2 separate regions of the Homo sapiens genome follow, and region 1 is linked to region 2. A link means that fine-mapping ties the variant in region 2 to the expression of a gene that starts in the linked region. Tissue or cell type: aorta. Region 2 holds a variant in brackets; the other region holds the start of a gene. All regions are shown on one strand. Distances are from middle to middle. Region 1 holds the start of SNX7 (sorting nexin 7). Region 2 overlaps SNX7 (sorting nexin 7).

Region 1 (12,040 bases), 21 kb after region 2:
TTCTTTCTATTTCACCTACCTAGACTTCCTCCCCAAGGAGAAATATAAAAGAATACTTAACCTATAAGAGAGCTATAATGGCACAGAGTGAAATTTTTTGCAAGAGAAATATAAGTAGTCCTGGATCAGCCCTATTTTGTTTTATTGTTTTTTTTGTTTGTTTGTTTTGTTTTTTTTGTTTTTTTTTTCCTAATCATCAAAATGGTAAGGCCCACTAAGACAAGATCAGGATGTAGGCCTTAGGGAAAGGGGAACATACATATTAGGGCATGTAATCGTCATTAGTATTTATCCTCATTTTACAGATGAAAAATCTGACGCATTGACATTAAGTTACTTGCCTTAGGCAATAATACTAGTAAGCAGTGCAGCCAGGATTTCAAATGCAGGCAATGTAGTTAGAGTCCCTACTCCTGGACCAGGTGTGGTGGCTCACACCTGCAATCTCAGCACTTTGGGAGGCCGAGGTGGGCAGATCACCTGAGGTCAGGAATTCGAGACCAGCCTGGACAACATGGCAAAACCCCATCTCTACTAAAAATACAAAAAAAAAAAATGCTGGGTGTGGCAGTGTGCACCTGTAGTCCCAGCTACTGGGGAGGCTGAGGTAGGAGGATAGCTTGAGCCTTGGGAGGTGGAGGTTGCAGTGAGCCAAAATCACGCCACTGCACTCTAGCCTGGGTGACAGAGTGAGACCTTGTCTCAAATAAAAAGAAAAGAGAGTTTCTACTCCTAACCACTAAGCTTATATCTTAATGGTATTTTTACTTACAATGACTAATGGAGCTTTCTTCAGAACTTCATATTTATCCCAATTAAATTCCATAGTCTACTTCTGAATACAATGTTCTAACTTATCAAAAGATTTGGAAGGCTGATTATGATATACAGACTATTAGCTATTGTTATAGTTACTACTGCTGTGTAACAAACAATCTGAAAACATAGTCGTATAAAACGATTTTATTGTTTTAGATTTTATTATGCTCACTGGTTTATGCAGGAATTCAGGAAGCACACAGCAGAAATGTCTTGTCTCTCCTCCATTATACATGAGGGCTCAACTGAAAAGACTTGATGGCTGAGGGCACATGAATGCTGGAGGCTGAAATCATACAGACATCTTCACATGAAAGCCTGCCACTTAATGCTGGATAGTGCCAGGGACTTCGGCTAGGGCTGCTGACCAAGCATTTACATATGGTTTCAATGTAACATGGGTTTCCTAACATGGAGGTTTTAGGTTGCATTTCTTACATGGTGCTCCAAAAAGCACAGTGTCCCACTGGACAACACGAAACCTACATTCCCTTTCATGATCTAGCCTGGGAAGTTGCACAGCATCACTTCCACCATATCCTATAGATCAAGGCAGTCATAATCCCACCCAAGTTCAAGGAAAGCAGCACTTATACCATCTCTCCGTAGGAGAGTGGCAGGTCACATCATAGAAGAGCATATACAATGAGAGATACTGACACAGTCACCTTTATTGAAAGTAACTCTCCACATTGTTGTACTATGTCCTACGACCCCACCCATCTATTTTCTGTGCCCTAGGAGGCTGGCACCTATAGATGACATCACCTTAGCAAGACCACTCAAAGAGGAGTGCAAGCAGGAGATCCAAAGGCAGGAGGAGAGGAATTCAGGGAACATACCCCTTATTTCCTCCTGCTTTGGCACGTTTCCGGCAGTAGCTACCTCTCTCTGTAAATGCAGTTCCTGAAGAAGTGTCCCCATCTCCACAGCTCCAGGTCTGACTGGTTTCCAGCAATGCTATTTCCATTTCTTGTCCCTTTAAAGCTAGGGATGCTAATAGCTTTTTCCCACTACAACTCTCTAAATGCCTCAGTATTCCTTGTTTGTTCACTAACTCTGCCAATAATTCCATAAATAGTCCCCGCATTCAACTCTCATTTAAATCATTGGAGAGAATTCTGATTTTTATCAGAGTGATGACTGATATAGGCACACAACAGAAACCAAATAGACTGTGCAGAGAATATATGTGAGAAATTAGTAAGCAGGACTTCCTAATCTTTTTCTAATTATTTGATAGAATAGATGAATAGTATAATTATGCCGCTCCATCACTATACTGAATTTCCAAATTGACAAAGAAAAAAATATATATATACATATAAAGATATGTATACATGTGTATGTTAGATGTCTCAACTTTATTCTTTCAGAAATAAACTTTTCAGCTGGGCACGGTGGCTCACGCCTGTAATCCCTGCACTTTGGGAGGCCGAGACGGGTGGATCACTTGAGGTCAGGAGTTTGAGACCAGCCTGGCCAACATGATGAAACCCTGTCTCTACTAAAAATACAAAAAATTAGCCAGGCATGGTGGCGCATGCCTGTAATCCCAGCTACTCAGGAGGCTGAGGCAGGAGAATTGCTTGAACCCGGGAGGCAGAGGTTGCAGTGAGCCAAGATTGTGCCACTGCACTCCAACCTAGATAATAAGAGCAAAACTCCATCTCAAAAAATAAACAAATAAATAAATAACCTTTTCTGAAGAAATGAGTGATTTTTTTCAAAAGCCTTGCTCAATCATGTCATTATAACTCTGATTTACCATAAACACAATCTTAAGTCTTTCATTATTCTTATAAAACTTGTAGCTTCTATTGATCATGTTTTTTTCAAAGTGTGTATAAACAACATACTAAATAATTCATTTCATGGCTTTTTTGGAGATTGAAATGAAACCTACTGTTCGCTACCTTCCAGAACTCCCATTTTGCCCATTATTTTTAAAAACAATATTTACCTATCTCTAGTTTCAGGGAACCATTATTGCATTTCATGATTTCTCAAAGATGACTAGTGGTGATGAGGATGATTACACCTGTAAGTTCCCTGATTATCCTAGATGATATATATCTCACTTTTATGATCCCGAATATCTTTAAAGAGGCCAATTAGAGCTATCATTTACTGAGTACCAGATAAGCATCTCAGTGCTTCATTGTGGCCTAATCACATACACTGTATCCACAGCTGTTTCTTTTATACAGTATTCAATAAAAATAAAGGCAATTTATTTTAATTTATTGTTTTTCCCCAAAGAGGAGGATTTTTTCCTTTAAACGTGAAGAAACTGGCCCTTTTTCTCCAGTTAAATTTTTTGGAAGCCTCATCTCATTGTGACCTAGTTCTAAAATAATTCTTAGGCTCTTGTTACCATTTGTGTATCTTTTTTATTTTTTTATTTTTACTGTTTTTGTATGATTGGTTCTGTTCTCTTCCTTCTAACATCTATCCCCGTTCTTTTAAATCAATGTCCTCTGCATTCTCTTGAGGTCTGGCATCATTTTCTTCTCACTGGATTATAAGAAAATTCAGAACAACTTTGTTTTACTTTCCATCCCTCTTGATTTATATTGCCATTTAGAGTTTGTCACATCTTCCCACCTGGAGTATAAGATTGTGATAGCAAGAACTAAATCTTGTATTTCTTTTTTTTAAAGCATACTTAACACAAAATGTATATTTGCCATGTACTTGTAATACGTTGTGGAAAAAAAATAATAAGAAGTTGTTTTGTTTTTCTTTTGAGACAGAGTCTCACTCCGTCACTCAGGTGGGAATGCAGTGGCGTGATCTCTCAGCCCACTGCAACCTCTGCATCCCGGGTTCAAGAGATTCTCCTGCCTCAGCTTCCCGGTTAGCTAGGATTAAAGGCTCCCACCACCACACCCGGCTAATTTTTATATTTTTAGTAAAGATGGGGTTTCACTATGTTGGCCAGGCTGGTTGTGAACTCCTGACTTCAAGTGATCCGCTAGCCTCAGCCTCCCAAAGTGCTGGGGAAATTCATACTCTTTAAAAAGCTTCTGGAAGAGTATACCAGACACATATTCACAAATAATCTAAGAGAATAAGGGGACTATAAAGGTGAATGTAAATTAAATATGTAGTTTGCCAATCTCAAATTACTAAAAGGGAAGGACAGTTTGCTTCATAAGTAATTGTGAGATTCCATCCTAGGATAGGCTGAACAGCAGTGGTGTTTGTTTTATAGAGGAGCAGGCAAGGAAGGTAGTGGAAAGGGAAGGCCACGTGGAGCAGGCTTTCTTAAATTTGCTTAACTACAGATAACGGTTGAGAAATTCAACTTACTGAAATGGATGAAAGTGGCTAATTTTAAACTTTTCCAACTACTCTTGTTGGATTTTCACTAATATTATATCTTTGCCTTAATCTATGTGGGCAGTTTCTACAGAAGTTGTTCTTAACTTTTTCTAAGCATCCAACACGCGCAGTTAACACTAACAAGCAGGGTGGACCCAGGTGTACGGGCTTTTAGAGTTTGGAAGGTCCCCTTTTAAAAGAATACAAAATTAGGTGGAAAAACACATTATTCAGAATGAGAAAAGAAATCTCAATAAATGATTGGAGCCATGGAGATCTAGATTCCTTAGTCTGAGAGAGCTTTAGGCAATTCACCAGAAATGCTTATTTAGAAATGCTTCTGGTCGGGACCTGTCATTTCCTTCCCACCTAGAACATCTGCGACTCCAGCAACCCCCAACACGCCCAGAGGTCTAAGCAAACGAATAGCGCTGAAGCTTCAATTTCATTAGCTTCACCTTGGATCTGCCTCTGACAAGAGGACCTCATTTAAACATTGATTCTTAAGAGTCAGCTAGAACACCTAGAATCTGGGGAAAGAGAAACCACTTGACAAGTTTAAAACAATCCGAGTCACTGTGGCTCAAGCCTGTAATCCCAAACCCTTTGGGTGCTGGAGGTGGTAGAATCCCTTGAGGCCAGATGGGTCCAGCCCCGACAAAAAAAAAAAAAAAAAAAAAAAAAAAAAAAAAAAAAAACCAGAAAGAAACCCTGATGATTCTGATACACCATTGCTATTTCCAACATCCCATCCCAAAGTTTCACAATGCATAACCATAGACTAATATTCCTTATCCAAACAGCAATGTAAAGAAGGAAAGAAAGTAAATAACCAACTGGCCAACTGTCGTTGATCTGAACATGAAGTATGTGTGGAATATAAAAAGGCAGAGTTTACAACTAAACATAAAATAATTCCATTGTTTTACTACTTAACAGAAAAGTCAAGAGCACAAAACTGTGATAGTCTGTTTAAATATTCGGAATACAAACCTGGGCCTATCATTCCATTTAAACCGAAGTAGAAATAAGTTTTATATACTCCTCTTTGGAGTCAGAGTATGCATGGTCACTTCCTAACTTTGGTTTGCTCTCCCAGAGTAAATGCGGTGGTTAAGTAGGTCGTTTGCTTTACCTAATATCTCCAGGTAACGTTAAAATGAACAGGCTTCTTAGTAATGAATACAGCGTTGTGATCTGAACTCAGGTCTTCTCTCAGCAGCAACTTGAGAAACTGGAGTGACATTCAACCTCCCTGCAAGAAAGGTATTTTTCTTTTCTAAAACCCTTTAAGAAATTACAAACACCAGTCTACACGTACCAAAAGTCTACCACTAGCCCCCACAAGTCAATTTCCCTCCAACAGTAAAATAAGCAAATAAGAGCCTTTGGTCCTAAATTTCCCGGGGGCAAGGAAAAACGAAAGCACTGGCTGTGGGTTGGGTGGCAGTAGCTGACCATCTGAAAAATCCTTAGCTCCTCAGCGGAGGAGCTTCCTGTTAGAAACAACCGTTTTCTCCTGTTCAGGGAGATTTCCTAGAACCTATTCCCACAAGACCCGAGACTCACCCAAGTCTCAAATCCACAAGCAACAACACTAAATTAAGAATAATTTCTCTAAACTTGGCTGCTCTCCCAGAGTTCAGGGCTGGCCTCGCCCGAAAAGCAGCTGGCGGGAGCGGTTTTGAGCCACCAGCCTCCCAGGTTCGGGAGCTGCCGCGAGGAAGATGTCTGTGTCAGAGAAGCAGAAAGGGAAAACAAATCACAACTTTGCAGACTCCACTAAGCCACAGCCCCGCCGAACGGAAGGTCAAAGTGCGGAGGAGGGAGCGGCTGCGGTTTGAGGCCCCGAGGCGACGCGGCCCCGGGTGCGGCCAGAGCTGGCAGGCGGGGTCCAGCAGCCCGGGGGACCTCACTCGTCCCCAGCTCAGAGCCACCGCCCCGGGAGGGCAAGCGCGCCAGAGGCAGCCGTCGGCGCAATGCTGGCAACGCCCGGAGTTGCCTTGGAAGTTTCCCGGGACTCGCCGCCGCCGCCCTCACCTTGCTGAACACCTCCAGGTCGTCCTCGTCCTCGTCCAGATCCAGCACCTCCGCCTGCAGCAGGGCGGAAGAGCCACTGCTGCCCGGAAAGGGGGCGCCGCCCCCCGGGCTCTCCCCGTTGGCGCCCCCGGCCGGGAGGCCCGAGGAGGGCGCCTGCGATGCCCGGCGCTCGCCCTCCATCCCGAGAGTGCGCGCCCAGCCGGCCGCCACCGCCGCCGCCAGCCCGGCTCCCCCGAGCGTGCCCATTGGCTCCCACGTCTCCTGCACCTCCCCGGCCGGCCCCGCTCCAGCCCCTCGCCCGCTGCGCAGACGCGGAACTGCCGGGACCAGCGCTGGCCCGGGCCGGGCGCATCCCCACCTGGCCTGGGGCGGGCTGGAGGGGCGGAACTGGGACTCTCGGACTCCGGCTACGTTGGAGAAAGGGTTGGCTGTACCCTGGAGAAGAGGAGAGACTCAAAGGTAGGAGGTGGGCGTCCTCGCATTGACCCAGTCGGGGGCCACCGAGTGACGGTTTCCGCAGTGGCGGGGTCTGGGAAGAAGCCACGAAGCGAACCGTCCACTTCGCGGGATCCACAGCGAGGCTGGAAGGCACCCGACCCAGCCTTGCCAAGAGAAAAAAAAAAAACAGCAATAACAATACTGTATTTCCTGTATTCAGTGGTTGCCTTTCTTCTTGGTTGTGATTTTCGAGCTAATGTAAAAATAAAGACATGAAAACTTCCCGTTTTGTTAATTGATTTTTGACCCAGTGACTGGCCTGTGCGGTCATTTCACTGTCGAGCCAGGAAAGCTGAGCTTTACAAACTATTTTCAGCCACTTTCAAATGCATCTTTACTCCTGGACGTCTTCCTGAAGTTAATGAGCAGAATGTTACCAAGACCCAAGGACAACTAGCAAGTCTGGAAAATTGCCACCGAGAAATAATCTTCAGTCCTTGCATTGCCAAGGCAAAGCTTTAATTATTTAACTGCTTATTATTCAAAAACAAAACTAAGTTCCAAAACTAATGGAAAATTTTGCCCACGTTGATATATTCTTTAATTTATCTTCAGGTTTTATTTACTTCCGTCAGCCCCACCTCTTTTCTGTAGGCCCATTTAAAAATTTTTAAATACATTAAGCTCTATGTAAGAATTCCTTATTTGGGGAAATAGAGAATATCTTTATTTCTGATTAGAGGCAAGGCCTTAATAATATATTATCTCCTAATCATTCAAATGTATTCCCATTGATTTCAGACGTGCACCCACCCTTCAGTCAGGTTGGTCACTGCCCCATGAGTATCCACATTTGTTTCTGTGCTTGATGATTTCTGTACTTTAAATGCCATCTCCTGCCCATCCTTCAGAAATTAAATATAGTCCCATCTCTTTCAGAAAGACTTTCTAAATGACAGTCTGTTCTCAATTTAGCATTTAATTTTATTCCATCTTGCAGATTGTATTTGTTTCATGTACAAGTTTTCCATTCCTTAGTAAATGATAACATTTTCAGGTTGAGGATCCTGATATGTATTAACCACAGTATCAGATGTACTCTCAAAATGCTCTCTGCTAATTTCTGTAAATAATATAAGTTATTAAAAGACTTTATTTTTTCCTTGATAAGCTTATTCTGACTAGTAAGGAAGATTCAAGGTTTTCTAATTGCAATCTGAACCAGGAAATTCTTAATAATGCTGTAACTCACAGAATTGCTAGAAACCATAGAGAATGGGCTCAGAAAATGGGCAGAATAAAGCAAGGCTGCACAGCTTGGATTATAGCCAAAAGCAAGGCCACAGAACCAGTGGTACAGACATTGCTGCTACCATTGCCTGATACTGGTTGCCACACCATCTTCACCAGTGTCAATATTGTCATTAACACTGATGTTACTGGACTCCAGTTGCTTTCCCTGGCAGCAGTACCACAGCTACCTCTGAGAACTTCCCTGCTATTACTGCCACAAAAATGTCTCCATCACCCTGTTTCTCTGTGTTGATTTTTCTAGTATTAAAACCCTGGAGAGTATGTGTGCTTGGCCAATCTGGCCAAGTTTCATGGAAATTCCTAAGGCAGAGAATTTTCTAAACATAGAAAGGCCATATTGATGCTTGTCAACCAAAAACAAGAAAAATAGGAAGAGGGGTAGGATGAGGAAGAAGAGTAGGGAAAACGTGACTATAATTTGCCCCTTTGGCTGTCCAATTAATATTACCTTTCTTCACATACTCCCCCTACCTCCATGCTTTGAGCACCTGAGCATGCAGTTCACAGCCCCTCAAAGGGAGATAATCCCAAACCTACTCATTATTAGTACAACTCCAAAGCAGTATGTCTATTCCTCCTGTAGTCTCAGCTTCCTATTAAGTGGGACTATCACTGGGTTTTTTTGTTTGTTTGTTTGTTTGTTTTTGAGACAGAGTCTCACTCCCTCGCCGAGGCTAGAGTGCAGTGGCGTGATCTCTGCTCACTGCAACCTCCGCCTCCCGGGTTCAAGCGATTCTCCTGCCTCAGCCTCCTGAGTAGGTGGGACTACAGGCGTGCGCCACCACGCCCAGCTAATTTTTTGTATTTTTAGTAGAGACAGGGTTTCACCATGTTGGCCAGAATGGTCTCGATCTCTTGACTGCATGATCCACCCGCCTCGGCCTCCCAAAGTGCTGGGATTACAGGCTTAAGCCACCGTGCCCAGCCTATCACTAGGTTTTTTAATGGAAGAATTCTTACTTGGGTACTAAAGCCTTTAAACCAGCATAGTCCAAAACTTGGAGTGCAAGTATAATATTAAGAGCAGCCCTACCCACTCCTGTCCTGTTTAAGAGAAATAATATCATACATTAATTTATGGTTTCATGAATATACATCTTGTCAAAAAGCTTTCTCTCCCTTATACTTTCCAGATGGGATCTCTTCAGACCATAACTGGATCTTTAATATTCAATTCCACCATCTATGAAGTCTGCTGTTTCTAGTAATGGGTTTTGTGATGAGACAAGTTACCCCATGGGCATTGCCCAAAGGCTTTACTTCTTTTGCTAGAAAGTGATTTAACTAGTTAGAAAAAAATATAATGTGCAAAATCTACTGAGGAATAGACCAGTCAATAAGTTCATGGACGAGCGTGTTGAGGGAAATCTGATGAGCAGAAAAAGCAAAGCCAATTTGACTTTTCCACTAAAGACAAATCATGGCATCCTCCAGTGTGGCAGGGTAAGGGTCCTGCATAGTTGCTGTGGCAAGCTGAGTGCTGAGCAATGGAAGCAGCCAATTATCCTTTAGTGAGAGGAAATCCTTATTTTTGAGCCAATGCATAGCATAAATCCCTGCCACCATGGCCACATGGTATGTGAAGCCATAGAACAAGCACTGGAGTTTCTAGAAAAGCAGTAAGATTAACATCCACAGGAGAATAAGCATTATTTTCAAACTTATTTCTGATGACATAAATTCATCAAATGAAAAGGCTTTTTTGGAGAGCATTGTTGTGGGCTACATACAAATATGCTTTTATTCTGGGGCCATTCCAAGAAAGTCACCTACATACATTTTCTCAAACCTTCTTGACCCCGAGATCCTACCTTGTTTCTTCTAAGTCTCATCAAGTCAAACCTCTAGCCTTTGTCCTGGAAAGAGCATAGAAGCCTCATTCTAACTGCCCTTTGAAGCATAGTGGGCACTGTTGTATACCAAGAGGAGGATTTCCCTTGTCCACTGCCCTTTTGCACTGCAATAACTACTAACTGATTCCCGCAAATGATAAAGATCCATCTGTAAACCAACTTTGGAGTTTTTACCCCTTAGTTAACTGTTCAGATAAAACTCCCTATGAGATCATAGGGGTAGACCTGCTGAGAGTAAAAGCCAAATGCTCATGCAATGTATGCTTATAGGACCACTTTCAAATATTACATTTCCACATGAGCATGGCTTGCTGAAGTAAGGCTGGATCAATTTTAGGATTTTTTTCATTATAGCACCCATTTCATGAGGAGCTGCTTGGATCACATAGTCACCTGATGTCACATGCTTATGTATCTAGTTGATATTGTTTGGCTATTTGTCCCCTCCTAAAGTTATGTTGAAGTGTGATCCCAAATGTTGGAGGTGGGGCCTAATGGGAGATGTTTGGGTCATGGGGGAGGATCTCTCATGAATGGCTTGGTGCCCTCCCTGTGGTAGTGAGTGAGTTCTTGCTCTATTAGTTCACACAAGAAATGATTGTTTAAAAAAAAAGAGCATAGCACCTATCTCTCTCTCTCTCACTCTGACTCTTTTTCTGAATCTCTCTCTCTCGCTCACTCCCTCTCTTGTCCTATGACATGCCTGTCTGTGCCCCCTTTGCCTTCTGCCATGAGTGTAAGCTTCCTGAGGCCTCAGCAGAAGCCAAGAAAATGCTGATGCCATGCTTGTACAGGCTTCAGAACTGTGAGCTAAATTAATCTCTCTTCTTTATAAATTACCCAGCCTCAGGTATTCCTTCATAGCAATACAAAACAGACTAACGCACTCATCTTCGCCAAAACCTGGTAACAAGCCAATGGCTGGTTTCTTAAATCTATCAGAGAGAGCACATTTTGCTCTAAAACATTAGTCTTTTTGATTTTCTTTCAGAACTTGTCACAGGCCCCACAGAGTATCCTTATTCTCTACAGGCTCATCAGTAATATTAACAGTGAAAGGTAGGCCAAGCGTGGTGGCTCACGCCTGTAATCCCAGCACTTTGGGAGGCTGAGGCTGGCAGATCACGAGGTCAGGAGATCGAGACCATCCTGGCTAACACGGTGAAACCCTGTCTCAACTAAAAAAAAAAAGAAAAAGAAAGAAAAAATTAGCCAGGCGTGGTGGTGGGCGCCTGTAGTCCCAGTTACTCAGGAGGCTGAGGCAGGAGAATGGTGTGAACCCGGGAGGCGGAGCTTGCAGTGAGCCGATATCGCGCCACTGCACTCCAGCCTGGGCAACAGAGCGAGACTCTGTCTCAAAAAAACAAAAAACAAAACAAAACAAAAAAAAAACAGTGAAAGGTAGTGAATGTCTACTTGAGTCAGACACTCTTATAAGTGCTTTATGCATGGGCACTCATTTAATCTTCACAAACACCTTAGGATGTAGACGCTATTATTACCATCCCCATTTTACAGATGAGGAGACTGATGAACAGAGAAGTTTAGTAATTTACCCAAGGTAAGTAATAAGTGGGAAATAATTTACTCCTCACTGAAAAGAATGTTACATAATGTTGTCTTTAAAAATAGAAAAGAGGCCAAATATGGTGGCTCATGCCTGTAATCCTAGCACTTTGGGAGGTTGAAGCAGAAGGATAACTTGAGTAACTTGAGGCCAGGAATTCGAGACCAGCCTGGGCAACATAAGGAGACCCCATTGCTTCAAAAAAAAAAAAAAAAAAAAAAAACTTTTTTTAAATTAGCTGTTGGTGGTGGTGTGCATGCCCGTAGTCTCAGCTACTAGGGAGGCTGGGGTGTGAGAATCTTTTGAGCTCAGGAGTTTGAGGCTGCCCTGAACTATGATTGTGTTACTGCACTCCGGACCGGTGACAGAGTAAGACTCTAAAGAAAAATAAAATATAAAGGAGGATTTATAAGGATATTCAGGGATTCTCAGCTCTTGGAATTTAGCAGAACAGATAATTCTAAAATTCTTCCACTACCAATCCTGAAGAACTGTAACAAGAATCTTTAAATTCATGGTTGAATTTGCAAAAAAGTAATTAACTTTAAGGAGACAAGAAACAAAGTAACCTTATGTCAGAGAATGAAATTTGTAAATATTTGGGCTGCTAGTCTGCCTGTCCCCAGGGTGGAATGTGTAGGATTGGTCTCAATAATCTAAAGGTTTGTGTTTGAGCTATCAT
Region 2 (12,040 bases):
ATTCTTCTCTTGAAGGGTTGTAAGAGACACATATGTAGGAATATGATAAGGAAAACAGTCATTATCAGCAGGGTTTGGAACAAGACTAATTTCCCTACAGCAAGTAATAGAATCATTGTCCCTTCTAAAGTGGACAAATTTGATCACTGTAAGATGTCGCAGTGGCTCACGCCTGTAATCCCAGCATTTTGGGAGGCCGAGGCAGGCAGATCACGAGGTCAGGAGTTCGAGACAAGCCTGACCAACATGGTGAAACCCCATCTTTACTAAAAATACAAAAATTAGCCAGACGTAGTGGCACGCACCTGTAATCTCAGCTACTCAGGAGGCTGAGGCAGGAGAATCACTTGAACCCAGGAGGCAGAGGTTGCAGTGAGCTAAGATCACGCCACTGTACTCTACCCTGGGTGACAGAGCGAGACTCTGTCTCGAAAAAAGAAAAAAAGAAAAAAGATGCACAAAAGCTTCCAAACAAAAGCTTCCAAACTGTAGAAATAACTGGGTTTGATAACATATATCCAACTTAGAAATATCATGTATTTCATAAAGTGCATTTGGAGTATAAATAATGCTTCTAACATAGAATACAGTTTTCTATGGAAGCAACATTGAAAATGCTGGCCAATTTTTCATGTTTGACCATAAAAGCTTGGGTATTTGAAGTTTAGTACTAATGAACTTGTGTGATCTCTACCCCCAAAAGCATTTATTCCAAAAATACCAACCTTCAGTCAAGTGTGAACAGTTATTCTAAACTCATTATTTAGAAAACTTTTTTTGAGGGAAAATGAAACTTAATAGTCAGTTCAGCCAATCAAGAATACAGCTTAACTCCTAACTATACAATGACAGGCATTTATAGGTTTGTTTTCACAAAGAGGAAGTGGAAGGAAAGTACCTTGTTAAATCTCTTCATTCTTACTCTTATATGTACTAAGAGAACGTACATCTTTAGATCTCCAAAAGAGAAAATACTTCTCTATAACAGTCACTTAAAATATGCTAACCTAGACAACAAAGGGTAATTTCCCATAAAAAGAACAGATGCCACAAATGTGGTCTTCCCGATACAATCATTCACAGTTGGATCATTCTTAAGTATTCCTAAATAGGTGATTGTCCATGTATGTATGTGTATATTCATTTACCCTTACAATCCTTAGTACCCATGAATATAAATATTTACAAAACTAAGATTTTCCCAGGAAAGCCATCTTTCAACCTCCAAATTAGATGGTGTATCCCATGCTCATAATATCCAATATTTTTCCTTCAAAATATTTATAACTATAAAGAAATTACTTAGTATATGATATGGTTTGGCTGTGTCCCCATCCAAATCTCATCTTGAATTGTAATAATCCCCATGTGTCAAGGGCGGGGCCAGGTGAAGATAATTGAATCATAGGGGCAGTTCCCCCATACTGTTTTCATGGTAGTGAATAAGGCTCATGATATCTGATGGTTTTATAAATGGGGGTTTTCCTGCACAAGCTCTCTCTTGCCTGCTTCCATGTAAGATGTGTCTTGCTTCCCCCTTGCTTTCTGCCATGATTGTGAGCCCCCTACTCCAGCCATGTGGAACTGTGAGTCAATTAAATGTCCCGCCTTTATAAATTACCCAGTACTGGGTATGTCTTTATTACCAACATGAGAACAAACTAACACAGTACAAAATTAATTATTTAATATCATCATATGCAAACACCCCTTCTTCAGAGTGAAAACACCAGGAAAGCAGAAAGTTCCTTTTGTCAGACCTATCCTGATCACTGATATATTCTTAATATATAAGCACAATACTTGGGACAAACGGGGTACTCAATAAAACTTGTGGAATAAGTAAGTAAATGATAATAAGAAAAGACTATTTGATAACATGATCTACATGTACTATTTATATATTTGTATCTGTAATATATATTTCTGTATATATAGATATAGTCTATATACTATGAAATAGTAAAAGTAATTAGAAGTAGAACAATGGAAGTCATTTATAATAGTTAAACTGAAAGTTTACCACATCCATACCTAAATGCACAAAAATATAATAGAAAAAATGTATACTATGAAAGTAAACTGTTTGGATTTAAATCCCAGCTCAGCTAATTACAATGTTGTGTAACCTTTAACAAGCTACTAAGTTTCGGTGTCCTCGTGCATGAAATGGGGGTAAATCATAATATCTACGTTTGAGGATTACTGTGAGCCTAAATGAGTTAACATGTAGAAACTGGTTAGAATATTACCTGGCACAAAGCAGTCACACAGTAAATGTTTGCTAGTTTATATATTTTCATATTATTATTACTACTACTATTACTACTTCTATAAGACCAGTCCATTTAAAGTATGTGTAAATAGAAAAACTCAGAAGAGCAGTATGTCTATGATCAGAATGAAACTCACAAGGTGGCTTTAGAAAGAGTGTCTTTCTGAGAGACGCAAATGATGGAAAAATAATTCAGTTTCACAAATTATTTGCTAGAATGGATAATGACAATAGATAATTATAACAGTAGTAATAGAAGAAATTTGGCTCTACTCTAGCAGTATGCCTGTATTAACATATTCAATCTTCATAAAGACCTTATGAGGTTAGTACTGTTATCCTATTTACAAACAAGAAAACTAATATAGAGAGGTTAATTAAATTGTCCAAGTCACATAGCAAGGAAGGAGAGAAATCAAGATTCAACTCCATGTTGTCTTGCTCTACCACATCTTGATATAGCTAAGATAATTCCTTCACTCATTCATCAACAAAATAAATAGTTTACTTATTATGTCCTAAGATTTGTGTTTGGAATTATGGATAACTTAAAATATAGTTACCTTCCTTGAGAAACTCACAAACTCACTGAGAATAAATACAAATAAACATCTATTCACATACAGGTAGATGGCAATTACTGAACACTTATCGTGTGTTAGGCACTTTACTAAGTGGGGTGTGCATTGATTACTTATTCTACTGCAACCCTACAGAAGTGAGTTCTATTATCTCAGTTTCATTGATTTAAAAAAACAGCTTAGTTGGATTAAATATATGCTTTTGATATTTTGCTATATTGACTCTTATGTTTTACATTCCTTAAGAGTTCAATAGAACAGTATGAGAAAACAGAGGAAGAATAACTATTTCAGCCAGGGGACAGTAACAACTAGAGAAGCTTTCACAGGCATCTAACATTTTGAGTTGTATATTGAAAACTAAGCATGACTTCTTCTGTCTAAGAAGGGGATGGACACAGCAAACAGAAGGAAAACTATATGCAGTTTTGAGAGCAAGAGATCCCCTAAATATTCAGAAAACAGAAGCAGCTCTACCTGAGTGGAAAGCAAGGTACTGAATGTGAGGTGTAACAAATAAGTCTTATATGGTAAGTGGGCACCAGACTGAGAAGCCTCTTTATATGTCATACAAGAAAGTCGGCACTTTGCTCTGCCTGAAATAAGGGGCCAAGAAAGGATTTTAAGAATTCAAGTGAAGAAATAAGATATATATATCTTCAGGAAACATAACTAATAGCAGTGTGGCAGTTTCATTGGAAGAAGTGATTATAGAAACATAGTTCAGAACTTTTTCAGCTAAAAAAAGAGATGTACTTTTTACATTTATGAAATATAAAAGTCTAGGGTGACGCTTCATAAACAAAATATTATAAAGAGAATTATTTTCAAATGCTATTAAATAAAGGACTTAAAATACAGATTATACTAGGTGGTTGCTTAATTGTGTCTGAGGTAAATTGTCTTTGTAGCACTTCGCCCTACGATTAAAGAGATCTGTGTTCTAGATCTACTTTGCTCTTGAATTATTGCACACATAACAGTATCTCATACATGAGACAAAGTGGCCACCTGTCCCACTTTGAAAAACAAATGGTACCATATTTTATAATCTTCCAAAGAAATCTGAATACATAATATTGCGAACTGTTTAAGCATTTTCTTTTTTTATTAACAACTTGAGGCCCATCTTTTCCAAAGGTATTTCTTAATACTTTTTTAAACTAAAAACCTAGATATTCTTATTCTAAGAAGTATAGCTGCTATAAAATGAGTGACTATTTCTCAAGTCAAGTTGAATTTCACTGACTTAATACAGAACAAGTGAAGGGCAGATAAGAAGCAATGTGTTAGCCAAAAGGTTTGAAAAAGTAAAAGTCAATTCAGCTAAGATCTTGGAATGTTCAGAATTATAATGAACAAGAGGTACTTACTTCCAAAGCTTAAAAAAAAGCAGCTATATTCAAGAAAATATTCACCAAATGTTTACCTTAGTAATAATCCTATACGTAATGAAAGTTTCTATTGTAGTAACATGACTTTCAGGTTCATCAACTGTGATGAAGAGATCCTTTAAATCTGGTTCATCCTCAAACTTGATTTGGTTTATCATTGATAAAGGGGATGTTGGCATCATAGGGCTGAAGGAGTTCATGTCCATCAATGAGGCATCCTAAGAAATAAAACATTCAAAAATTAGTATCAATAGAAAAATTAAACTCTTCTATTTCTAGATGCTATCAATATTAATGAAATATATCAAGAACAAAAGGGATTATTGGACTTTTAGTTAAATGTGGTATACTGAACATGTATTTTTATCTGTTTCCTCTTGAAAATCCCACCCAAAAGATGACAGTAAAGAAAGAAACAAACAAATGAAAAGTATAAACCCTCAAGGATTGCTATGGTTTGAATGTTTCTGTTCCCTCCAAATGTCATGTTGAAACTTAATCCCCAATGCAATAGTATTAAGAGGTGGAGCCTTTAAAGGTGAGTAAGTCATAAGGGTAGAGCCCTCATGAATGGTACTAGCCACCTTATAAGAGGGCTGTAGGGAACGAGCTAGTGCCTCTCCTGCCCTTTCACTGTCTGCCATGTGGGGACACAACAAAAAGACACACACCATCTTGAAGCTGAGAGCATCCCTTGCCAGAGGCCAAAACTGCCAGCATATTGATCTTGAACTTCCCAGCCTCCAGAACTGTGAGAAATCAATTTCTATTATTTATAAATTACCCAGTCTCAGATATTTTGTCACAGTAGCACTAATGGACTCAGGCAAGAATAAGAAGAAAAAAACTATGGTAAACGAAATGTGCCAACTGCTTTTTGGAAACTGGAGATCTGATCGTCAAGTGGTAACTAAAATAGCAGTGCAGAGAAAACTGAAAAGTAATCTAGAAGAGAACAGTAAACTAGGAAGAGGCAAGGATATTTATGATGTAGAATGCCAGAAAGGTTCAAGAATTGGAGGCACCAAGAACCTGTGGACATAAAGGTTGTGGCAGAGCAGAAACCAGATGATTGGTTATTAAGAAGATCTAATAAAACAAGAGTTAGAACCTCAGATTCCCTCACCTACCCTAGGCAATCAGGTAACTTTCCCACCCCAATTTGGTAGAACACTGGAAGTCTACTTTCTGAAAGGTCTGAGCTCGAGGGCATCCAGTAGGATAGGGAAGAAGTCCTATGAAAATACAGATATCAAGTGAAAGTCCTGCATACCAGACTAAAAGACATGCAAACCTGTTCATCTGGTCCCAAGAACGTTGGCAGGAAGGTGCAACCCCCACCCCATCATAGTCCATTCAGGCTGTTATTAAAGAAAACTACAATAAACTAGGTAGCTTACAAACAACAGAAATTTATTTCTCACAGTTCTAAACTAGGAAGTCCAAGATCAAGATGTCAGCAGATTCAGCGTCTGGTGAGGGCCCACTTTACAGAACAGCTTCCTTTCACTATAATCTCACATGGTAAAAGGGGGGAGGGTCTCTCTGGGGTCCTTTATAAGGGCACCAATCCTAATCATGAGAGCTCCACGCTCATGATCTAATCACCACCCAAAGGCTCCACCTCCTACTATCATCAGCTTGGCAGTAGCATTTCTATGTATGAATTCTGGGTGGACACAAATATTCATACCACAGCACCCACCATAGTTGGAAGTTTCCTCTCTTAGCTGATCTTGGAGAAAAACTGACAGTTGTAGTCCCCTAATGAATTAGCCAGGTCTCTGCATAACCACCCTACATCAAAGCCCCTACCATGCATGCAGAATGTCTACTCTGCTTTTTATTATTTGGTGTAGGATCTACCAAACATCCAAACACGAGGAAAGGCTCTGACGTGAAATAAAGTCACAAACAAACCAAAACAGAAGATTAGAGGAAGCAGATAGAACAGAGCATAAACACTTTTTAAAAAACCATGAAATCACCAGAAAGATAAGAGAAAATATTAAATCCATGAATGAAAGCATGCTCTTTTTAAAAAGAAAATTCAGAGAACAGCAACACCACCAACCAAAAAAGAGACTCATGAAAATTAAAATATGATAGCAATATAAAAATGCAACAGAAAGTCTGAAAATCAGAGCTCAAGAACTGTCCTACTATGTGAACCAAAAGAACAAGAGATGGAAAATGAGAAGATTTTTTAAATTGAAGGATACAGGCAGGCAGTGCCTGAATAAAAGGAATTCCAGAAAATGAGAAAGAAAAATATCCTTGACATAAAGTTGATAGGGCCTGTGAGGTCTCCCCAAAATGAACAGGACACTGGTTGGGTAGGTAGTACTCCTACAAGCATCCATCACCATGACATTTCATAACACTAGAGATTTTTAAATTCCCTAAAGATTTAAGAAACAATATAAGTAAAATAAAGGAGGAATCTTGGGAATCAGAATGGCATCAGAGTTCTTAAATGGTGATGCTGGAAACTACATGATAATAAACTAATGTCTTCAAAATTTTGAGAGAAAAGTATTTTCAACCTAGAATTATACATATCCAGGCAATTGTCATTCAAATATACAGGTAGAATTAAGCCATTTCAGAAATAGAAGATTTCAAAAACTTACTTCCCATGTACCTATTCTTTGGAAGCTTCTTTACTTCTCCAAAATAAGAGAATATGCCAAGAAAGAAAAAAATAGAATCTAAAAACAAGAGATACAACAGAAGATCAAAGTAAAGGGAATTCCCTGGAAAATAATGTTCTACATTGACAGTTTTGCAGCAAACCTAGAGAACAGCCCATATACACTGGACCAGGAAAATAAATATCCAGGGTATCAAGGAGATGACAAGGAGAAAGAATAAAGGAAGCGAGGGATGAAGGAAAAGGGGATGGTGGAGAACAGAATACGAAAGGGGAATAAGCAGAGGAGGAAAGGAAA[C/A]AGAGAAGGTGAGAGAGAAAAACAAGGAAGAAAGGGAATTAAAAAAAGGAAGTAAAAGAAGGACAAAAAAAGGAAGAAAAGAAAACTGATAATGACATAAATGTGATAGGAAGCATGCCTATGTTAGATCTGTAGATAAATTATAATTGGTGTAAGAAAGTTAAGGAGAGAGAAAGCAAAAGAGAGAAAAGGAGGGATGAGAAAACTTTTACTTATTGAGAGTAAGCTAGAAACATGTTGCCCCATTATTCCTAAATAGGTCTGTGTGTATTTTCAGAAAACAAGAATACTCTCCTACCTAACCATAGTACCGATCCAGGTATTTGAATCGGGAAATTAGCACTGACGCAATACAACAGTCTAATCCACAGACCCTTTTGAATTTCTCTGTCCCAAAAATATCCTAAAATGTTCTTCCCCTCTAGTACAGAACTAAATCCAGGTTCATCTGTTACATTTAACTGTTATATCTCTGGTCCCCTTCAATCCGGAACCATTTCTCACCTTTCACTTTCTATTATGGTATAGACCTATTCGAAGCTACTTTATAGGCAATGTTTCCTTTCTCTCAAATATATACATACGTTTTTCTCTCTCCCATCATCTTATCACCATTTTAAGGTAGATAGAGGTTTAAGAAAAAAATTATTTTTATTCACAGCCAAGCCATATAGTGAATTATGATTACATTTTCATTCTTCTACTGCTTTAAAAAATATCTTATAGTGATAAGGTCTTGCTATGTTGCCCTGGCTGGTCTCAAACTCCTGGCTTCAAACAATCCTCCTGCCTTGACCTGTGACAAGGTTTGGTTGTGTCCCCACCCAAATCTTATCTTGAATTGTAACTCCCACGATTCCCATGTGTCATGGGAGGAAACTGGTGGGAGATAATTGAATCATGGGGGCGGGTCTTTCCCGTGCTGTTCTCCTGATAGTGAATAAGTCTCATGAGATCTGATGGTTTCAAAAATGGGAGTTTCCCTTCACAAGTTCTTTCGGCCTGCTGCCATCCATGTAAGATGTGACTTACTCCTCCTTGCTTTTCACCATGATTGTGATGCTTCCCCAGCCACGTGGAATTGTAAGTCATTAAACCCTTTTCCTATACAAATGCCCCAGTCTCAGGTATGTCTTTATCAGCAGCATGAAAATGGACTAACACAGTAAATTGGTACTAAGAGTGGGGCACTGCTGAAAAGATACCTGAAAATGTGGAAGCAACTTTGGAATTGGACAACAGGTAGAGGCTGGAACAGTTTGGAGAGCTCAGATGAAGACAGGAAAATGTGGGAAAGTTTGGAACTTCCTAGAGACTTGTTCAATGACTTTGACTAAAATGCTGATAATGACATGGACAATGAAACCCAGGCTGAGGTGATCACAGATGGAGATGAGGAACTTGTTGGGAACTGGAGCAAAGGTGACTCTTGCTATGTTTTAGCAAAGAGACTGGTGGCATTTTGCCCCTGCCCTAGAGATTTGTGGAACTTTAAACTTGAGAGAGATGATTTAGGGTATCTAGTGGATGAAATTTCTGAGCAGCAAAGCATTCAAGAGGTGACTTGGGTGCTGTTTAAGGCGTTTAGTTTTACAAGGGAAGCGGAGCATAAAAGTCCAGAACTTTTGCAGCCTGATAATGTGATAGAAAAGAAAATCCCATTTTCTGAGGAGAAATTCAAGCCAGCTGCAGAAATTTGCATAAGTAACAAGGAACTGAATGTTAATCCCCAAGACAGTGGGGAAAATCTCTCCAGGGCATGCCAGAGGTCTTCATGGCAGCCCCTCTCAGCATAGGCCCACAGGCCTAGGAGGAAAAGGTGGTTTTGTGGGCTGGGCTCAGGGTCCCCATACTGTGTGCCGCCTAGGGACTTGGTGTCCTGTGTCCCAGCCACTCCAGCTGCTTCAGCTATGGCTGAAAGGGGCCAACATAGAGCTCAGGTCATGGTTTCAGAGGGTGCAAGCCTCAAGCCTTGGCAGCTTCCACACAGTGTTGGGACAGACAATGCACCAAAGTCAAGAATTAGGGTTTAGGAACCTCCACCTAGATTTCAGAGGATGTATGGAAATGCCTGTATGTCCAGTCAGAAGTTTGCTATAGGGATGGAGCTCTCATGGAGAACCTCTGCTAGGGCAGTACAAAAGGGAAATGTGGGGTTGGAGCCCCCACACAGAGTCCCTACTGGGGCACCACCTAGTGGAGCTGTGAGAAGAGGGCCATCATCCTCCAGGCCCCAGAATGGTAGATCCACTGACAGCTCGCACTGTGCCTCTGGAAAAGCCACAGACAGACACGCAATGCCAGCCCATGAAAGCAGACAGATGGGAGGCTATACCCTGCAAAGCCACAGGGGCAGAGCTGCCCAAGACCATGGGAACCCACCTCTTGCATCAGTGTGACCTGTATGTGAGACATGGAGTCAAAGGAGATCATTTTGGAGTTTTAAGATTTGACTACCCCACTGGATTTCAGACTTGCATGAGCCTGTAGCCCCTTTGTTTTGGCCAATTTCTCCCATTTGGAATGGGTATATTTACCCAATGTCTGTACCCCCATTGTATCTAGGAAGTGACTAACCTTTTGATATTAGAAGCTCATAGGTGGAAGGGACTTGCCTTGTCTCACGTGAGACTTTGGACTGCAGACTTTTGAGTTAATGCTGAAATGAGATGAAACTTTGGGGACTGTTGGGAGGGCATGATTGTTTTTGATATGTGAGGACATGAGATTTGGGAGGCGCCAGGGGTGGAGTGATATGGTTTGGCTGTGTCCCCACTCAAATCTCATCTTGAATTGTAACTCCCACAATTCTCATGTGTTGTGGGATGAACCTGGTGGAAGGTAATTGAATCATAGAGGCAGGTCTTCACATGCTGTTCTCATGACAATGAATACGTTTCACGAGATTTGATGGTTTTAAAAATGGGAGTTTCCCTGCACAAGCTCTTTTGCCCTGCTGCCATCCATGTAAGATGAGACTTGCTCCTCCTTGCCTTTCACCATGATTGAGGCTCCCCCAGCCATGCAGAATTGTAAGTCCATTAAACCCTTTTTCCTATATAAATTGCCCAGTCTTGGTTATGTCTTTATCAGCAGTGTGAAAACACATTAATAGTGTGAAAACAGATTAATACATCCTGCCAGAGTGCTGGAATTGCAGGTGTGAGCCACTGTGCCAGCCCAGTTTTTGTTTTCCTGAGTGTTCATTATTCATTTATTCATTCCCTCTCACTCCAAACTATATTAGTGTATATATGTATACTGCTATTTTTTATTTTTCAATGTTGATACCATCAATAGGTTTTCCACTAAGGAGACTAAAGAGTATAATATTTTGTTTAAATTAATTATATGACTATAGACTCAAATTAATTATATGACTACAGATTCACAGATTCCTATTTTATTCAGTGGATATAATTCATTAACATCATAATTTATTTTGATGTCTAAACAGTCCCAAGTTTGACAAGTGGGAGCCCCTTAAAGCTGCACCAGTATGTTTTTGCTATGTCTTCATTATTCTTTGAGCACTTTACTTTTTAGAACAAGATGTTTCAAGTTTATAATATTTTGTTATTTCCCTGCCCAAGCTCTGGAATGAGACATTTCTCCGAGGAGCTCTGGTTCCTTTTAGAGAAGATTGGTATTTACAAAACCAAGATATTAATGCTAGGAAATAAATATATGAGACATACACATACATATGTACACTGATATAGTTTGGATGTTTGCCCTCTCCAAATCTCATGTTGAAATGTGACCCCCAATGTTGGCAGTGAGGCCTAGTGGGAGGTGTCTGGATCATTAGGGTGAATCCCTCATGAATGGCTTGGAGCCATCCTCATGTTAATGAGTAAGTTCTCAGTCTATGAGTTCAGGCAATATCTGATTTATTAAAAGACCCTGGATCGTCCTCTTTCTCTTGCTCCCTCTCTGGCCACATGACATGCTGGCCGTCCTTCACCTTTCGCTACAATCGTAAGCTGCCTAAAGCCCTCACTACAGGTAGATGCCAGCACCATGCTTCCTGTACAGCATGCAGAACCATGAGCCAAAATGAACCTCTTTTCTTTATAAATGACCCAGCCTCAGGTATTTCTTTATAGCAATGCAAGAACAGACTAACACACACACACACACACACACACACACACACACGCACACACACACAGACTCATACAGCTCTAGATCTATGGCTAGATACAGATATAAAATACCAAGAGTTCACAAATTAGAATGATATACCTCTATTTCTTTTTTTTTTTTTTTTTGAGACAGCGTCTCGCTCTGTCACCCAGGCTGGAGTGCAGTGGTGCGATCTGGGCTCACTGCAACCTCCACCTCCCGGGTTCAAGCAATTCTCCTGCGTCAGACTCCCGAGTAGCTGGGATTACAGGTGCCTGCCACCACGCCTGGTTAATTTTTGTATTTTTAGTAGAGACGGGGTTTCACCATCTTGGCCAGGCTGGTCTTGAACTCCTGACCTCGTGATCCACCCACCTCGGCCTACCAAAGTGCTGGGATTACAGGCATGAGTCACTGCCCCTGGCCTATATACCTCTATTTCTAATTTGACATGTCATGGCTTGTCTAGCCTTTCCCTTTTCCATATTTATAACTCTTTTAGTCAGCAGTGAGAAACCTGGCTCCTATTATCCCAAATGTTTACTTATTGGCTCAATTCCCCTGTATGTAACCAATCTCCCAACCACACCGGCTTCCTCCTCTGCTCTGACCACGTAGGCCAAGGCAGCCTTATTCTCAACCCCAACCATGCAGGATGCCTCCTCAGCTTCAATTTCAATTGGCAACACTGGTCATCTGCTCAGTCACCTT

The links. PIP is the estimated chance that this variant, and not a neighbour inherited with it, causes the effect.
Region 1: SNX7 starts here. The variant in region 2 is fine-mapped to the expression of SNX7 in aorta (GTEx, PIP above 0.99). The same link has a PIP of 0.9 or more in esophagus mucosa.

What each region holds. Positions count from the first base shown.
Region 1 is chr1:98,656,058-98,668,097 of GRCh38, reverse strand. SNX7 (sorting nexin 7) reads right to left here and starts at 6,377. Exons shown (of 9, transcript NM_015976.5): 1 at 6,187-6,377. The coding sequence starts at 6,366. SNX7-DT (SNX7 divergent transcript) reads left to right here and starts at 7,326. Exons shown (of 1, transcript NR_189290.1): 1 at 7,326-7,791. RefSeq lists silencers at 5,996-6,065, 6,296-6,415, 6,436-6,575.
Region 2 is chr1:98,677,313-98,689,352 of GRCh38, reverse strand. SNX7 (sorting nexin 7) reads right to left here. Exons shown (of 9, transcript NM_015976.5): 2 at 4,286-4,468. Among named protein-coding and RNA genes, the nearest start is that of SNX7, 22 kb to the right of the region's middle. The variant C/A (reference allele first, on the strand shown) is at 7,202.